Regions from separate parts of the Homo sapiens genome. Here region 2 is linked to region 1. Evidence: fine-mapped expression QTL. A gene starts in region 1. The other region holds a variant in brackets. All regions are shown on one strand. Distances are from middle to middle.

The links. PIP is the estimated chance that this variant, and not a neighbour inherited with it, causes the effect.
Region 2: its variant is the best candidate, but not a certain one, in a credible set for the expression of ZNF783 in NK cells (Gilchrist 2021, PIP 0.71).

What each region holds. Positions count from the first base shown.
Region 1 is chr7:149,260,287-149,265,663 of GRCh38, reverse strand. It overlaps ZNF783 (zinc finger protein 783), which reads right to left and starts at 3,468. Exons shown (of 6, transcript NM_001195220.2): 1 at 3,307-3,468. The coding sequence starts at 3,330. LOC124901769 (a long non-coding RNA gene) reads left to right here and starts at 3,323. Exons shown (of 2, transcript XR_007060582.1): 1 at 3,323-4,017. RefSeq lists a silencer at 3,001-3,870.
Region 2 is chr7:149,298,667-149,304,043 of GRCh38, reverse strand. No RefSeq gene overlaps it. Among named protein-coding and RNA genes, the nearest start is that of TRC-GCA1-1, 8.8 kb to the left of the region's middle. The variant T/C (reference allele first, on the strand shown) is at 2,175.

The sequences.
Region 1 (5,377 bases):
AATATCCATCTGCTGAAGCATTAATCCCCAATATGCCGGTATTTGGAGGTGGAGCTTCTGGGAGGCAATTAGGCCATGAAGGCAGAGCCCTCATAAATAGGATTAGCGCCCTTGTAAGAGGAGACACAAGGGAGATGATCTTGCTGTATGCCACGTGAGGATACAATGAGAAGGCAGCCGTCTGCAAACCAGGAAAAGAGCCCTGCCGGGAACCAAGGCAGCCTGAGCAGACTGAGACAATGACAGTGATTATGGTGATGGTTCCAGCTCAGGGATATGGTATAAATAGTTCATATGGCCTTTTTTTTAACCTCCACCTCTTTTATTCCATTGTCCTTCAGTGCCTTGGAAAAAGCTTCTCAAGTGCCTCAGCTTACCCTGGTATCTGATTCACAAGCCCTCATTGTGCATGCGCAATGGGCACAGTCCTGGTTGGTGCTGCTAAAAGCCTTGTTGGAGAGACAAATCAACATCTCACTCCTCAATTTCATTCATCCTTCATGGTTAAATCACCATCAGGTCCTAACTTCCAAAATTACCTCAAATCCATCCATGTTTCTCCTTCTCCACTGCCAGTGTCTAGTCCAAGTTCCCATCACCTTGCTTGGCCTGGGCCACTGCGGTCCTGCCCACCTGATTTCCCCACTTCCAGCCTTCTCCCCCACTTCCAGCCTTCTCCCCCACTTCCAGCCTTCTCCCCCACTTCCAGCCTTCTCCCCTACTTCCAGGCTTCTCCCCGACAATACACTTTCCACAGAGTAATTGTTAATCTTTTTTTTTTTTTTTTTTTTGAGACGGAGTCTTGCTCTGTCGCCCAGGCTGGGGTACAGTGGCGCAATCTCGGCTCACTGCAACCTCCACCTCCCAAGTTCAAGCGATTCTCCTGCCTCAGCCTCCCAAGTAGCTGGGACTACAGACGCCCGCCACCACACCCAGCTGATTTTTATATTTTCAGTAGAGACAGGCTTTCACCATATTGGCCAGGCTGGTCTCAAACTCCTGACCTTGTGATCCGCCCGCCTCAGCCTCCCAAAGTGCTGGGATTACAGGCGTGAGTCAGTGAGCCACTGCTCCCGGCCTGGTAATCTTTTAAAAACACAAATAGATCATTTCAGTACCCTGCTTAAAACTCTTCAATAGCTTCCCAGTGTACCTGGCATAAGATCTAGACTTCTTCATGGCCCAGCCGACCTCTCTTGACCTTGAGCCATCCAGTTCCTGTCGTGCTCCAGCCATGCCAGCCTCCTGTGGATTCCGAGGACCCACCCGGCCCTCCTCCAACTTCACATCAGCTCTCAATATGCATCCTCTGTATGCCTGAGTCTCTCTCGTTTTTAAGATTCTAGCATAGACAACGCATCCTAGAGATTTTCACTGCCCCTCCCCCTTAGCACTAGTAATCTATAATTGCTTCATTCATTCAATAACAATTACTGAACACCTATCATAGTAAATGTACAGTGAAGATGAAGAAAAAACTGATGTGGTTCTTCCTTCTCCAGGAGAAAAATTCTGTATAGGAATACTTATAAACAACAACAGTGTGATAGGATGGGCTAACAAGAGTCCAGGGCAAATCTGTCCCTTTTGGGGAGTTTTTTGGGATCTCAAGTGCTGCAAGAAGGGAGGAGCAGGTGGACAGGAGTGATCTGAAAGGTAGTGAAGCAGTGAGCCCCAGGCTAGGGGGAGTGGATGATGTCACCTTCTAGGGCCCCCTCTTCCCAGGGAACAGGACTATAAACCTGCAGAATCCTCAACGCTTTTTCTCTCCCTTGCACTCAGGGAACCCAAAAAGAAGCTCAGCACACTCACTAAGAGGAGGGAGAGGAAGTTATACTTTAATAAAAGTATCCAGAAAAATCAAGGTTTCAAAACCTTCACTGAGGTGTATTAATAATAGTAGGTATCATCTATTGAGCCTTTACAAGCGTTTTCCAGTATGTCAAAAATGGCCAAAGGATTATAATCTCCCAATTGGACATACTGCACTATATCAAACCAAGATTCTAAAATCTGCTAAACTGGCCTAACTTATATAGATGAAGATGCCAAAAAAACTGATGTGATTCTTCCTTCTCCAGGAGAAAAATTCTGTATAGGAATACTTATAGTGTATTCTTATGAATAAACTTATTCATATAGATATGTATCTGGACAGATAGATAGATAGATATAAATGAGACAGGCACCTGCGCCTGTAATCCCAGCTACTTGGGATTGGGAGGCTGAGGCAGGAGAATACCTTGAACCCGGGAGGCAGAGGCAGAGGTTGCAGTGAGATGAGATCCCGCCACTACACTCCACCCTGGGTGAGAGTGAGACTGTGTCTAAAAAAAAAATATATATATATATATATATACACACACACACACACACACACACACACACACACACACACGTATATATATATACTTTTTTAATTAAAAAATTTTAAAATGGCCGGGCGCGGTAGCTCTCGTCTGTAATCCCAGCACTTTGGGAGGCCGGGGCGGGCAGATCACGAGGTCAGGGGTTCGAGACCAGCCTGGCCAACATAGTGAAACCCAGTCTCTACCAAAAATAGAAAAATTAGCCAGGCGTGGTAGCAGGCGCCTGTAGTCCCAGCTACTTGGGAGGCTGAGGCAGGAGAATCCCTTGAAGCCGGGAGGCGGAGCTTGCAGTGAGCCGAGATCGTGCCACTGCACTCCATCCAGCATGCGCAACAGAGCGAGACTCCCTCTCAAAAAAAAAAATTAAATAAAATCTGCTACAGTAATCTTTTTTAAAAAAATCTACTATCTCTCTTGTAAACGACACAATCTTTCTCTTTGGCAAAAGTAGAATATGAGGCGTTTTAAAGTGTCTAATTCCAAAATCCCTGCCCCGGCGTGAGGCTCCCGCCTCTAATAGATGCGTGACCCTGGGCCTGTCCCTTCCCATCTCAGCCTCCGCTACTGTCCCGTGGGGCTGGCGGCCCCTGCCCGCCCAGCCTGCTGTAGGGGGGGCCGCGAGGCCTCAAATGGGACAATACTCCTAAGGCGCGGCCTCCTCGTCGCCGAGCGTGACTCTGGGGCCCGGCCTGGCTGAGGCCGCAGATGGGCCGGATCGTCAGCCGCTGACGTCGGGGCCCCGCCCGCCGGGCCTGGCATTTGGGCCGCCCGGTCAATGCCTTCGACGCGGGCTGGGCGATGGGCCGGGGGCAACGAGCGCGGAGGCTGCGCGCAAGGCCCTCTCACCCCGCGGCCTCGCGCGGCCAGAGTCCCTCGCGCGGGCTCACGCGGCGGCGGCCTGGGCCTTCCGGGCGTCCGCGGGGCCGAGGGCGCTTACCCGGGCAGGCGCCGCTTCGGCCATGGCTGCCCGCGTCCCTCGCTGGGTTGCAGTCCCTGGACCCGGCCTGTCGGGCCCGGGGCGGCGCGGCAGCGACGGCGGAAGCGGAGCGGGACCCGCCTAACCTGAGAGCTACTGCCGGGCGGCAGCGAACTGCGTCCCGAGCCACGTGCCCCGCTGGCCCTTTAAAAAAGAGCTGCGCTCGGCGGCCGAGCTTGAGGACGCGCACAGCGCCCCCTGCAGCCCGTAGGACCGCACGCCCGCGGCCGCCGCCCCGCGCCCTCCCGAGGCCTTCAGCGCCCGCGGCGTCCGGGACCCAGGCGCGGCCACCCACCCTCACCCGGGGCGCGGGAGTTGACGCCAGGGCGGGCGTGCCACGGCCTCCAGCGGGGCTACGTCAGGCGTAAGCCACTCCCGGGCCAGCGCGGCGCCCAACCTCTCTCTGCGTCCCACGCGGGAGCCGGGAGGGCTGCGGGAAGGAACCGCGCTGGAAAGTGCGAAACCTCGCGAGGGAAAGCTGCGTGGGGAACGGGGTCGGCCCTCGCCGGGGCTCCAGTCCGGACCGAGACTCTGTTGCAGCGCCTCCCACGCACCACAGAACTGAGTTGGGGAAAGTAAAAAGGATACGTGTGTACCCAGGGAGAAGCCAGGGAAACTTACATGAACGTTTTTAAAGTCTCTTTTAAATTTGACAGAACAAACGTGAAGATGGTAGGATTTTTTTTTTTTTTTTCCTAAGCCTGCCCTCCCCTCCTGAGGACTCTGGGGTCCCTTCCTCCTCCCGGGGCCCGCCTGGTGAAAGTCCTCAGCCACCCACGAGGACCCTTCTGTAGCTTTGGTCCAGGCTGAGATCACAGCAAGTGTGAATCAGTCCATCCCTCATTTAGGCCCTGAGGCATCTTGAATAAACCGCAGGACCCATTTTCCTCGGCCTGTGCTGAGGCATATTGAACTAAATGTGCTGTATGCAGTTGAAGCTTTGTTTTCTGTCTTTTCTGCATTTCCCATTCATCTCACAGTCTTTGTCCAACAAGCTGGCAAACTCTTCCCGCTAGAAATCTGCAGTTTTGTTTCTTTCTGTGTTTGGGTTTGTTTGGGGTTTTTTGGTTTTGGTTTTGTTTTTTCTTTTTTGGGGGGGGGGGGTGAGGGTGAGAAGTTATTTTCACAAATATTTGAGCCAAGCAAAAGCGTGGTCAACTATCAGAAAAAACACAAACTGATATCCTAAGTAAGGTGAACCCCAAAATTTGCGGAAAGGTTAGGACGTGTTACTTTAAGGTAACAAATCAAATAAATATTTGGCATTATTCATTTTGGAAATTCTTGTTGAACTATCCCAATCTAAAACACAAACTGCAAGTATGCACTAAAGACATTAAGAGCATCCCTAGGATCTTATCAGGGATCAGTCCAATCTATTCAGGATTATAAAATACCAGTAAATGGTGACGTTATAGAATAACAGTTAAGGTCCAATGCAAACAGAAAGGGTCAGGAAAATGGGCCAGGAGCCGTGGCTCATGCCTGTAATCCCAGCAGTTTGGGAGGCTGAGGCGGATGGATCACCTGAGGTCAGGAGTTCGAGACCAGCCTGGCCAACATGATGAAACCCCATCTCTACTAATACAAAAAATTAGCTGGGTGTGGTGGTGAGGTACTCTGGAGGCTGAGGCAGGATAATCGCTTGAACCCGGGAAGCAGAGGTTGCAGTAAGCCGAGATCATGCCATTGCACTCCAGCCTGGGCAACAAGAGCAAAACCCCATCTCAAAAAAAAAAAAAAAGAAAAAGAAAGAAAGAAAGGGTCAGGAAAATGGGCTGGAGACAAAAATGCTAGGATTTAATGAGCTCTGTTGAGGAAAGAGTGCTATAATGTTTGACAGCTAGTCTTCGTTTTTTAGAAAAAAAGTTTCTCTAAGTCAGTGGTACTCAAACTTCAGTGTGCATCATGTTCACTGAGGGTTCTTGTTAAAAATACAGGATGCTAGGCACAAACCTCAACATTTCTAGGTCTGAAACAGGAGGGGATGAAAGTGATGCGAATTTGCAATTCTAACTAGTTCCCAAGAAAT
Region 2 (5,377 bases), 38 kb before region 1:
TAATGCACACAAAATGAATCTGGTCATGCTGTTGCCTTCCAGAAACTTTTCTTGGTTACTGTTATGGACTGAATGTCTGTGTCCTCCAAAATTCATATGGTGAAGCCCTAATCCCCAAAGTGATATTGTTTGAAGGTAGGGCTTTTAGGAGGTAATTAGGTTTACATGAGGTCATGAGGGTGGGGCCCCAGGGTGGGATTAGTGCCCTTACATGAAGAGAGACCACATCTCCACATCTCTCTCTCTCTCTCTCCTTTTCTCTCCCACTCTCTCTCCCTCTCTCCCCAACATGTTGAGGATGTCTGCAAGCCAGAAGAAGAGCCCTAAGGAGAGCCAGGAGAGAATCTGCCCACATCTTGATCTTGGACTTCCAGCTTCCAGAACTGTGAGAAATAAATTTCTGTTGTTCAAGCTGCCTAGTCCATGGTATTTTGTTTTAGCAGCCCGGGCTGACCAATACCGTCAACACAGTACTTTTTGTTGTTGTTTTGTTTTTGTTTCTGCTTGTTTGTTATCTAGCACTAACATTTTAAGATGGCAAGGGTAAAATGGGATTTTCCACATTTTCAATCCTCTCCAACCCTTTTGGAAAGCAATTTTGGCAATATTGTATTTATTATATTGACTCAGTCATGCCACTTCTGAGAATCTATTTTAAATAAATAAACACCCATGAAAAATAAGAAACCTAAGATTATCACTGTATTATTTTTAATTTAAAACTAGAAAAAAAACTCTAAATGTCTAGTAGTAGGGGAATGGTTAACAGCATTCACTTAGTGGAATGTTATGTTGCCATTTGAAGAGATCAGGTAATGTTTATGAAGCATCTCCTCTGTGCCAGGCTCTGTGCTAAACAGGATAGATGCAGAGATGAAGAACATGGTGCTTGCTTTCAAAGAATTTACATTTTAGTAGAAACAGACACAAAACACTCATTTCATAATTCAAATATTTAGTAAGCACCTACTATGTGCCAGGCATTATTCTAGGTACTGGGCATCAAGCAGGAACAAAACAACATCCCCATTCTCATGGAGTAGATAATAATCAAACAGGCAGGGCACAGTGGCTCACGTCTGTAATCCCTGCACTTTGGGAGCAAGAGGCAGGAGGATCATATGAGTCCAGGAGTTCAAGACCAGCCTGGGCAACACGGTGGGACCCCATCTCTACAAAAAATTCAAAAATTAGCCAGGTGTGGTGGCATGTGCATGTGGTCACAGCTACTTGACAGCTGGGGCAGGAGGATTGCTTGAGCCCAGGAAGTTGAGGCTGCAGTGAGCTGTGTTTACACCACTGCACTCCAGGCTGGGTGGCAGAGGGAGACCCAGTGTCAAAAAATAAATAATTTTTTTAAAAAGATAATAATCAAATAATTAATGTCAGGTGCAAATCTGTGCTGTGAAGACACATAAGGCAGAGTGGGGGAAAGAGAAGGGGCCCCAGCAGCAAGTAGGGTGGTATTTTAGATGGAGCATTCAGAGGTGACATCTGCAAGTGATCTGAAAGGAGCGGGGAGCAAGCCATGCGAATGTCTGAAGGGAAGGGCTCTCGGGCAGAGGACCAGCGAGAGCAGAGGCCTGGAAGCATGGCCAGCGTGGCCAGGTAGAAAGATGGGCCGTTTACCCTGGCCATGAGGGAGGCCCCCAGTGGGCAGTGCAGGGAGCCAGGGGAAGGCCTGGCTGTGGAGCATGATGTTTGAGGCAGGATGGTAGCAGAGGTGGCGGCGGAGGTGGGTGGCTGAGGCCTTTGGACGGGATTCACGCCTTGGAGAGTCCCTGAAGACATTTACTCATTCTTTGAGACCGAGCACAAGCGTCATGCTCCTGTGAGCTCATCCCTGACTCTCTTGACGGCCAGTCTACCCTTCTCCCGGGTTCCCACATCAACGTGTAGTCTATTTCATTATTGCTGCTTTGTATTGGATTCGAGCCATTCAAGCCCTTCACACATCTAACGCATGCACGTTCACACACATCTCAGAGCATGGACTCTCACTGCAGATCCCGCATATTTGATATATCTAATGTACAGGACTTAGCATGGAAAATGCTACTGAAATGAATTATTGAATACATAAACTCACATCCCCCAACTGCACTGTGATTTCATAGTAAAAGAGCAGGACTCTGTCTGGAACTCCTGCTCTATTCAGCAGTGCCTGGAACAGG[T/C]GATACTAACACCTCTCAAGTACCACTTAGATCAGGAGCGCTTTATGGGCATGAACCTGTGCAGTGGCACAGAACCCCATGCTTAGAAAGACCTGAGTTTGCTATCATGCTCTGCTGTCGCCATCAGGAAACTCATAATCTTACCTTTGAACTTGTGTTTTGCAGGTGAAATCCAATAGGACAATGAGCATGTCAGGAGCAGAGATGAGCACAGCATGTTCCTTGCAGCCCAATTTGCATATAGAGTGCTTGTGGTGCCCCATTGCATTCCGAAGGCCCACAATGCATGGAGTCCAGCAAGACCCAATGGGATATACAAGGTAAGCACATTCCATCTATGACCGAGAAAGTAGGGTTCTGACAGCCCAAGAGGTCCTACTTTCCTTTGGGACCAGAACTTGGTTCAAATACAGAAAGAATACCATGGTGTATTAGTCCATTTTTACGCTGCTGCTAAAGACATACCCAAGACTGGGCAATTTACAAAAGAAAGAGGTTTAATGGACTTACAGTTCCGCATGGCTGGGGAGGCCTCACAATCACGGCAGAAGGCAAGAAGAAGCAAGTTACATCTTAGATGGTTTGGAGGCAAAGAGAAAGCTTGTGCAGGGAAACTCCAGTTTTTAAAACCATCAGATCCAGATCTCATGAGACTTATTCACTATCACTAGAACAGCACAGGAAAGCCCGCCCCCATGATTCAATTACTCCCACCAGGTTCCTCCCAAAACACATGGGAACTGTGGGAATTACAATTCAAGATGAGACTTGGGTGGGGACACAGCCAAACCATATCACATGGTGTTCTGAGAAACACAAGCAACCAAGGAAATGTATCAGACACTTTCTTCCCCATGCTACTCGTATTATCATACATGTGCTAGCCAATTACTTACTCTGAAAATGTTGGGCTAGAAGGAAGAAGAGAGGGCAGCCCATGGCTCCTTTTCCGTTAGTCCTTTGCTCCTGGTTATACTGAAGATAGAGAGTGTTGGTAGAACGGGCATGGAGCAGGAAGTGAAATGAAAACAATGAAGTTAGCTTTGGGCAGTTTCCACGGTTCTTGTAAGAATGAAACGCATATGCATGTGTGAACTACAAATATTGTTTACTTGTGTGGAATCATGTGATTTCAGTGATTCTGCATCCCAGTAAATGCTCTTCTATTTGCATTTAAAACTATCCGTTCATAATACAAAGATGAATGGTACACACGCTCATAATGTTTTTAATTTTTGTTTTACATTAACAATTAATGTTTTAACTTTTCTTTACTCAGAATGACAGTAAAGAGCAAACAAAAAACACTATGATAGGTCAAAAGAGAGAGTGTGGAAGAAAGGAAGAAGCTTAGTATTTTAGTACCCTCCATGGTACTTTCTTCCTGCCTTTGAATAAGGGGACCCACAGTTTGATTTTGCACTGGGCCCTGCAAATTATATAGCTGCCCAGATTCGGCTCGAAGCTGCAGTTGCCAGTGCCTGGTGTAGGGCAATGATAAAGATGAGGATAGTAAGGGGTCTGGCTTCCATTCACAACATGAACACTTTGCATAAATGAAACAGCGGGCTCAGGACAGCCAACCGCCAACTGAGACAAACTGAATACCAGAAGGTCATTAAGGGGCTTTGAAAGAGGCTCTTGGCCAGGTGCGGTGGCTCACGCCTGTAATCCCAGCACTTTGGGAGGCTGAGGCAGGCGGATCACGAGGTCAGGAGATCGAGACCATCCTGGCTAACACGGTGAAACCCCGTCTCTACTAAAAAAAGACAAAAAAATTAGTTGGGCATGGTGGCGGGTACCTGTAGTCCCAGCTACTGGGGAGGCTGAGGCAGGAGAATGGCGTGAACCCGGGAGGCAGAGCTTGCAGTGAGCCCAGATTGCGCCACTGCACTCCAGCCTGGGCGACAGAGTGAGACTCTCCGTCTCAAAAAAAAAAAAAAAGAAAAGAAAAAGAAAGAGGCTCTCACATCCTGTAGCCATGGAGCAGTCTGTGCAGAAGGCTGGAAGGAGACAAGGGACAGCAATGGGCTGCCCAGGTCAGAGTCAGAGTCCACATGGGACAGTGGGACATGGGGTCCAGGATGGGGAGATTTGGATAGACAAGTCTGAGAAATGGGGACCCCACCCCCACCCAATCTCCCTGCACTTTCCAGATGGTAAAGCAGGGCTGAGGGAGGAAAAGCTATTCTGTTTTCTCCTTATTCCTGCCAGGAGAAAGTGGAACAGCTGCCTCTCCCCTGGAGAACAAGTAATAGCCTCTCCTGGAGCAGGACCCAGCCTCGCCCTCCTCCTCAAAGCTGTGCCTCCACTGCCCCATTCGTCCTGGCCCAGTGGAGAAGCACAGTCTCCACCCCAGGAGTGTCCTAGGGCCACTGAAACAAAGGACCACACACTGCGGGGCTTAAAACAATGGAAATGTATTCCCTCACACTTCCAGAGGCTGCAAGTGTGGTATCAAGGTGCGAGGAAGGCCGTGCTCCCTCTGAAGACTCCAGGGGAGAACCTGTTCCACATCCCTCTCCTCGCTTCTGGTGTCACCAGCAACCACCCTTCCTTGACCTGCAGACACGTCCCTCCAAACTCACTCCACCATCACATGATGTCCTTCTGCATCTGTGCCCTTCACATGGCATTCTCCTCTTACATGGACACCAGCCATACTGGATTAAGGGCCCATCCTACTCCAGTGTGACCTCATCTTAACTTACATCTTAATTATATCTGCAAAACCCCTATTTCCAACCTAGGTCACACTTACAGGTACTGAAGATTAGGACTTGAGCATATCTTTGGGAGGACACAATTGAAACCACAACCCCAAGCCAGCTGCCATCAGAGCAACATGTAGCTCTGGATCATCAGGGACAGGATGGATGTAAGCTGGAGAGGGCACTGGTATGGACACCTTCCCCCAGGACTCTGGATTGTGCTCTAGGAAGGAGACCCGGAACAGGTCCTAATCATCTACTGACATGGCTCCTCGGAGCTTGGGCATGACAATGGCCTAGAGTAAAGGAAGTGGAAATTCTAGAAGGTGCGGTAATGAGGAAGGGATCAGGAAGCTCTTGAGGGAGGGAACTTGTCTTGGTTGGCTCAGGCTGCCATAACAACATATCCATACACTGGGCAGCTTAAACACCAGAAATTCATGGCAGTGCTGGAGGCTGGCAAGAGGGCACCAGCATGCCCAGGTCCTGGTG